Linked DNA regions of Homo sapiens. The protein of the gene in region 1 interacts with the protein of each later gene in a pairwise test. Each region holds a gene or a part of one and is shown on either strand. Other genes may lie near its edges.

Region 1 (4,174 bases):
GAGCTCGAGATCCGCCCGCCTCAGCCTCCCAAAGTGCTGGGATTACAGGCGTGAGCCACCGCGCCGGGCCCTGCCTGGCTAGTTTTTGTATTTTTTGTAGAGATGGGGTCTTGCTATGTTGCCCAGGCTGATCTTGAACTCCTGAGCTCAAGGAATCCACCTGCCTTGACTTCCCGAAGTGCTGGGATTACAGGTGTGAGCCAGCACACTGGTCTCACTGGTGGTTTTCCTCACTGCCTCTCACTGGACTGAGTGTGATCATCTCACTTCCCTGCCACGCCCTCTGCCCTGAGAGCTAGGCCTGGCACCCAGAGCCCTGAGTGAGTGCTAAGTGAGCAGCAACATCTCCTGGAGTGACAAGAACTCTGTTCCCAGTTTCTCCCTCCTGCTGGACACTTGCCCCTCAATTGCTCATCTCAGCCTGCAGTCCATACACCCCTACTCCAGGCCTGTCCTTCAGGCCCTCTCCACCCTCTCTTGGGCCTGAGCTCTGGGTGGCAGTGAGGTGGCCGCTGTCAGGAGGCTCATGCAGGAGGCGCGACCAAAGACCCCTGGGCTCTCACAGGCCCCTGATCACACCTGGTGACACCTGGAAAGTGTCCCAACTCAGGAGTGAGGCGGGCAAGGGGGCTGAGTGCTGGAGTGTGGCCATGGGACCAGCACATGGCATCTGTGTGGCACTGCCTGGCAGACTCTGGGAAGGTGGGAGTCTCTGTTTCAGCCTCCAGACTTCCTGTCCAGGTAGGGGACAACTTCTAAGAGGCCGAGGCGTTTGTCACGCCTGGGGCTGTGCTCTCCAGCAGAGCACACTGCACCCGGCTGGCTGTCTTCCCCTGGAGAGGGGCTCTTTACACTCACCACTAGTTCGCCTCTGGGGTGTGGGGATGTTGGTCCTGTCCCCGGATGCCAGCCCGACTGTGGGGTCTAGAGACTGCCACACCATGTCTCTAATAAACCGAGTCAGAAATAGTGCCCTGTGGCTAAGCGGCAGGGCAGCGGTGGCCTGCATGATCCTGCCCTTGCAGCTCAAAGCTGCTTGGGCCTCTTGGGGCCATGCAGTTTCCATGAAAACAAGGAAGAGCACCAACCCCCAGAGATAAGCCAATAAACGCAACCTGCAAAAGGAGAGAACAGGCAGCAAGAGAGGCGGAGGGAACCCGGGGGGCCTGGAGAGAGAGGTGAGTGTGTGGCAGCTGGGCTGTGGAGCATAACCAGAGAGGCCGCAGGCTGCGGGCTGGAGGAAAACGAGGGCCTTGCAGGGGGGCTACTGTTCCTGGCAGAGAGAAAGGAGGCCTCTGGAGGTCAGAGAGAGACACAAAGAGAGCAGACAGAGCGAGGGTCAGTGAAGAGGCCAGCACGCAGGTGCCCGGGCCCTCTTGGGTCAGCGGGCGTGGGTGCCCAGGCCCTGGCACTTCCCCCATGAAGGCAGCCTGCTTTCCACGCCTTCTCATGATGCCTGTGAGGGTCTCCTCCTGCTTCCAGGCAGGGAGCCAGCTCTGGGCCTCCTTCCATTGGCCTGGGAGGTTGTGCTGCATTTCAGAGAGAGCCATCGGGAGCAGAAGCAACATGCGGAGAGGATGAGCAGGGACGGAGGCTCCACCATGACACTCTCAGTCCCAGCATCTCCTCAGCCCAGTCACCACACTGGAGAGGGAGGAGGCCCTTCAGACCCCGCAGGCCTCTGCACCCTGGGAGTTCCGCGTCTAACTCTCTTCCTGCAATCATCAGAGGCAGGAACTGGGCCCAGGTGGGGTAAAGGCAGGAAGACGTCTGCCTGCCCTGCTCCCTGGGCACTTCCCTGGATGCTGTATACCACAGGACAGAGATCGAGACTGTCTTTTGAAAAACATTTAGAGACAGGATCTCACCCTGTCACCCAGACTGGTCTCAAACTCATGGCCTCAAAGGATCCTCCCGCCGTGGGGTCCCAAAGATTATAGGCGTGAGCCACGGCGCCCAGCCCCAAACCGTCTTGATTCCCGACTTTGTAGGATGAAGGCCTGAGTGAAGAGGTGGGGAGGAGCTAAGCGGAGGAGCCCTACCCAGCCTGGACCACCCTGGGGCACGCACTCTGCGTCCACCTGACCTGGACGTGCCTCCTAAGGCTGGCAGCGAAGCCCAGGAGCAGAGCCCACGGATGGGCCCTGCAGGTGCTGGGCCTAGACCGACCGACAGACAGGCCTGGCCACTCAGGGCCACGCCGCCGCTGTGCCGCGCCTGCCCCCTCCCCGCCCGCCACCCCCGCCACTGGGGCAGGGACAGCGGGCCCAGCTCTGACCTCGGGTCTCGGGCACGCTCGACGTGGGCAGAGACACGGCCGCAGGGTCCTGGGGCTCGCTCGCTAGCCTCTGCCCGGCACACATGGACTTGAGCATCTGGAAGACGGCGAGGGGGGCCACGTTCAGCTTCAGCAGGTCCACCAGGATCCTGGCGGGGACAGACGCGGGGCCGGTGAGCCCTCTCCGCCCGGCGCGGCCACCTCCCTGAAGACCGGACAAGGACGGGGGCGGGGGCAGCGGGGGCTCCTCCCGACCAGCGGGCCGGGCGTACCCGGAGAGCAGAGGTCGGGGGTGTCTGGCGAGCATGCGGCCCCCACCCGCCCCGCTCACTTGAACACGTCGGGGTCGATACCGCCGCCCGCCGCCTGAGCCAGCTCGTACAGCTCCATCTCCTCGGTGCTCAGCACCTTCTTGCGCCGCAGCGCCAGCTTCTGCCGGGCCGCCTCCAGCCCCGGGGGCGCCGCCGACCCCGGCCCAGGCCCTACGCCCTGCGCCGCCATCCGCGAGGCCCGCCGAAAGGTGCGCCCCGCCCCGCCGCGCCCCCTAGCGGATGCGCCCACCGCCCTCTCCCTGCAGCGCCAGCGTCTGGCCTCCCGGGCTGCCCTGGCGGGAGCGGCGGGAGCGCGGGGACGGGGCCGCCTCCTCGGCGTCATTGGAGCCCAACAGTTAGTGGGCGCTCACGGTGTGCTGAGCGGCGCGCTAGGCGTCGGGAGTGGCATGGCGGACTGCAGGGGCCAGCTGCTTGGCGGTCAGGGCGTCCCTGATAGACTTGCATTGGTCGTGCTCGCTTAGGTGGCAGCACCCAGCCCAGTGCCAGGCATACATTGGGCGCTCAGTCAATACCTGTTTCAAGAAAGCGTGCAATTTTCTGGTCCGCACCGGTGCACCACTAGGGGTCGCTCTTCGGGGGGGGTGGGGGGCACTAATCAACAACCCTGCTTACGCGCACGCGCATTCCTTGCTAGGGAGAAAGTGCGTGAGCCCTACCTTGGGGCGCCAGAGGCCGCCACAACGCAGGCGCATTCAGCTAAGGACCACTCCCTCCCCCCGCACTCCTGCCTCGCCATTTCCCCTCCCTGGCCGGCCGGCCGGCCTTCTTCGCTTTGCGCACGTACCTTTTGAGGTAACGGCCCAAAGAGGTAGAAGCGCTTTTCCCGCCCGGCCGCGGGGCGTGGCTCTGCGCGCAGCTTGATGACGACGTTTTGGCGCGGTGGCGGAATGGCGGCTTCCACCTCTGAAGCGGGCGACGCTATGGGTCCCACAGGTGAGTGGCGCGGGACGCGCGCGTGAGACGGTCCGACGCCCTGGGGGCTTCCGCGAGCCCCTGCGGAGGCCATCTCCGTTCCTCCGCGAGCCCCAGGACTCGGGCGGCCCGGCGGCTCTGCCCAGGCCGGGCAGGCTGGGGAGTGGAGGGCCCCGGCTGAGTCTTCCTGCCACTCCTCTGGGCCATGCCTTTGTGCCACCTTCCCGCGCCGCTCGTACACTCTGTTCTGGTCCGGTAGGTGTTCGTTGAAGGTTACCCGTCGTTGAAGGAATTGAGGGAAGGAGAGCTTTGTGTTGAAATTGAGCCTTGGGCTCAACAGGCGGTGTGGGAGGAAGAGCCGGGTGTGGGTCCCAGCTCGACCCTTCCCCTGTGCGCTCCACATCTCCGAGCCTTGGTTTCGGAGGCTCCCGAAGCCCAATTCGCAGGAGAGTTGGAAACAAGTGGGCGCGTGCTGTTAAGGGAGGTCTTGGCATGACAGAATTTGCTTGGAATGATTAGCGTTGCCCAAGGGCTGTCGCTGTCAGAAAAACAAAACAAAACGAAACAAAAAAAACAAACGGGTCCGAAGCAGCTCCTGGAGAAAATAGGTGTTGGAGAGTCGCGACGAAGTGGACTCTAGGTGCATGGCACG
Region 2 (3,306 bases), on another chromosome or scaffold:
TACAGATTAACACTACCTCCACCAAATCCTCTGCTGCTACCGTGGCCACCTCCGCCACTGCGGCTGCTGCTTGCGCGGCTGCTGCTGAAGCTGGAACTGCTGGCACCGCTACTTTGTCGGTAGTCTCTGGCACCAAACCCTCCACTAAATCTGCTACTATAAGAAAAAAATTATGTTGGTTCACATGAAGATGAAATTCCACTAAAGTAACCTAACTCTTTCCTAATGACCAATTTCTAATTTTTCCATTCAAACAATTCCCCATCCAGCCATATTTTCCCCAACAGAGTGTCACCCATTCTAATACAACCCCTTACCAAAGAATCTAGGAAGCCTAAGATGATTAAGCTTTTTAAATACTGTACAGTTAACCTTGGACGTTATGCATGCAGAGGAAACACTATGAACTGTAAGTGAACACCCATTCCCCTCATTATATACTATTTATACCTCACCTCTTAGAACGTCCACGACTGCTACCCTTGTAGTGGTGTTCATAAGCCATGTTTTCTAACCAAGACGGCACTTCTTGTTTAGCTTCAACAAGAAGATCCAACAAATCCTTAGTAATATTTATGTTCCTCTCGTTAAAGAATGAGGTTGCCAGGCCTAAAAGAGTTCCCAAAAAAGTATATAAACAAAGGTCTTCCATAAAGTAACTTGCTACTATTCTTACTTTCCTACGTAGAAATATTTAAAATATTACCACGTAATATTTAAACAAGTGCTTTGAGCAAAATCTTTGTCACTTTCATTGTTAAAAATGTATTTTAGATCCTAGCAAGTTCTTTCCTGCACACATCACAGCAAAAAACAATGAAACCATCAAGTAATCAAATACTTACCAAGGTTTCCTACACGTCCCGTACGACCAATACGATGTACATATTCTTCAATATCACTTGGCAAGTCAAAATTGATAACATGTTTCACATTTGAAATGTCCAGTCCTCTTGCTGCTACCTGGAAAATAACTTTTATGAGATATGGCCCACTTAAAAGAAAACAAATACTTGAACATGCTCAATTTGAATAAAAGAAAGATGTTTATACATACTGCTGTAGCCACTAAAATTGGGCTTTTTCCTGAGCGGAACTGGTGAAGGGCCTCTTCTCTATCCCTCTGAGAACGGTCTCCATGGATGCTGGTACATGCGTATCCTTCATGGTATAAGAAATCCTCCAGAGAATCTGCACCCTTTTTGGTCTCCACAAACACTAAGGTCAGTGAATCCTTGCCTGTCGTTGAAAAATTATAGGTTTTTGTCACTAACATGGCTTAGTTCTCTTTGCACTTATGTATGCACAATTTTAATGTGTCAATTAAAATACATATATATCTTCTTAAAAACGGGCTTTCAACACAGCATGTTTTGAATTGAGGAGGAAAAGTAATAAAGGTAATCCAAATACATTTAAGAGATGGGGGTCTCACTAAATTGCCCAGGCTGAGAGTGCACTGGCCATTCGCAGGTGCAATCATGGCATACTACAGCCTCAGCCTGCCAAGTAGCTGGGACTACATGCACTGTACCACTGCACCCAGCCCAAATGGGTTATTACCAGAGCAATTAAATTATTCATAATTTTAGCTGGGTGCAGTGGTGAGTGCCTGTAGTCCCAGCTACTCTGGAGACTGAGGCAGGAGGATTGTCTAAGTCTAGGAGTTCTGGGCTGTAGTGTACTATGCCTATCAGGTGTCCACACTAAGTTTGGCATCAACATGGTAACCTCCCGGAAGCAAGGGAGCACCAGGTTGCCTAAGGAGGGGTGAACAGGCCCAGGTCAGAAACAGAGCAGGTCAAATACTCCCATGCTGATCAGTAATGAGATCACACCTGTGAATAACCCCTGCACTCCAGCCTGGGCAACAAAGAGAAACCCCCATGTCTAATAAAATAAAAAATTCATAATGTTACCTGTTGCATTTAGGAGGTCAAGCAGAAATGACCGTTTGTCTGATTCTTCCACCCAAACTACTTTCTGTGTGATGTTTTCAGAGGTAGAGCCAACTCTTCCTACAGCCAAGAAGATATATTCATCTAAGAAATCACGAGCCAGCATCTGAAAGAAAAAAAATTTTTATTATTACCTGAGATAAACAAATTTCTAAATAAATAAAATTTGCAACATCAAACAGTACCTGTATTTCCTTAGGAAAAGTAGCACTAAACATCATAGTGTGGCGGACACCCTTTGGAGGCATAGTATCTTGTTCGACTATTCTACGAATCTGAGGCTCAAACCCCATATCCAACATCCGATCAGCTTCATCTAACACCAAGTATCTGTCATGTCATGAAAAAAAACAAGCCTGAGTTTAGAATTTGAGGAGAAATCAACATGGTTTTAGTATGGCTGTTAGTATAATTACAAATACAATTGTATAGGTTATTACAATTATATATTCATTAAGATGGTGCCTCACACTGCATAATTTTACAGACACAGCACAGGATTCTTGCCACTACATAAGTCATTCAAGATTACACAGTCAAATTAGCCCATCCTAGTTGACTGTCCCACGAGCTGATCATTGTTGTAAGTCTCAACCAAGATGTTACTGATTTTTCAACATTAAAATTACCATGAACAAGCTTTTTGTGAAAGTTAGATGTCTGAAATACATCACTTCTCAGCCTTAACATTTAGACAATGTTAACATCACCACAAAACTAATGGGCAGTAACTTTAATACTGCATCCCATACATTTAAAAATTAACATACTTGGCCGGGTGCGATGGCTCACACCTGTAATCCCAGCACTTTGGGAGGCCAAGGCAGGCGGATCACCTGAGGTCAGGAGTTCGAGACCAGCCTGACCAACATGGAGAAACCCCGCCTCTACTAAAAATACAAAAATTAGCCCAGCGTGGTGGCACATGCCTGTAATCCCAGCTACCTGGGAGGCTGAGGCAGGAGAATCGCTTGAACCCGGGAGGCAGAGGTTGTGGTGAGCCGAGATCGCGCCATGGCACTCCAGCCTGGGCAACAAGAGCGCAACTCTGCCAAAAACAAAAGAACAAAACAAAACAAAACAAAAAAACAAAAACAAAATAAAACATACTTGCAAAAGTCTAATCCAATCTTTCCTCTTTCCATCATATCCACTAGACGTCCTGGAGTGGCTACTAACAAATGGCATCCACGTTCCAAGTCTCGAATCTGCTGACCAATATCGGCACCACCATAAACCACGCAAGGACGAACTCTAGATCGGTATGAAAACTATAAGCAAAAAAAATGTTATGAACTTCAAGGTCAAAATTTTTACATGTTCATAAAACATTTAATTAGAATCAATG

What was found. The genes of interacting proteins can lie anywhere in the genome.
Region 2: the proteins of MZT2A (region 1) and DDX3X interact in binary tests that used the Homo sapiens proteins (3 or more experiments, as listed by UniProt).

The regions. Positions count from the first base shown.
Region 1 is NC_000002.12:131,489,598-131,493,771, forward strand, and holds the start of MZT2A (mitotic-spindle organizing protein 2A), read right to left. Parts: upstream 2,801-4,174; 5' UTR 2,780-2,800; coding exon 2,610-2,779; intron 2,428-2,609; coding exon 2,279-2,427; intron 1,640-2,278; exon of another isoform or gene 1,563-1,639; intron 1,296-1,562; coding exon of another isoform or gene 1,116-1,295; intron 1-1,115. UniProt on the Homo sapiens protein: Required for the recruitment and the assembly of the gamma-tubulin ring complex (gTuRC) at the centrosome.
Region 2 is NC_000023.11:41,344,162-41,347,467, reverse strand, and holds part of DDX3X (ATP-dependent RNA helicase DDX3X), read right to left. Parts: intron 3,230-3,306; coding exon 3,069-3,229; intron 2,289-3,068; coding exon 2,144-2,288; intron 2,065-2,143; coding exon 1,920-2,064; intron 1,240-1,919; coding exon 1,058-1,239; intron 964-1,057; coding exon 846-963; intron 610-845; coding exon 456-609; intron 157-455; coding exon 17-156; intron 1-16. UniProt on the Homo sapiens protein: Multifunctional ATP-dependent RNA helicase. The ATPase activity can be stimulated by various ribo-and deoxynucleic acids indicative for a relaxed substrate specificity.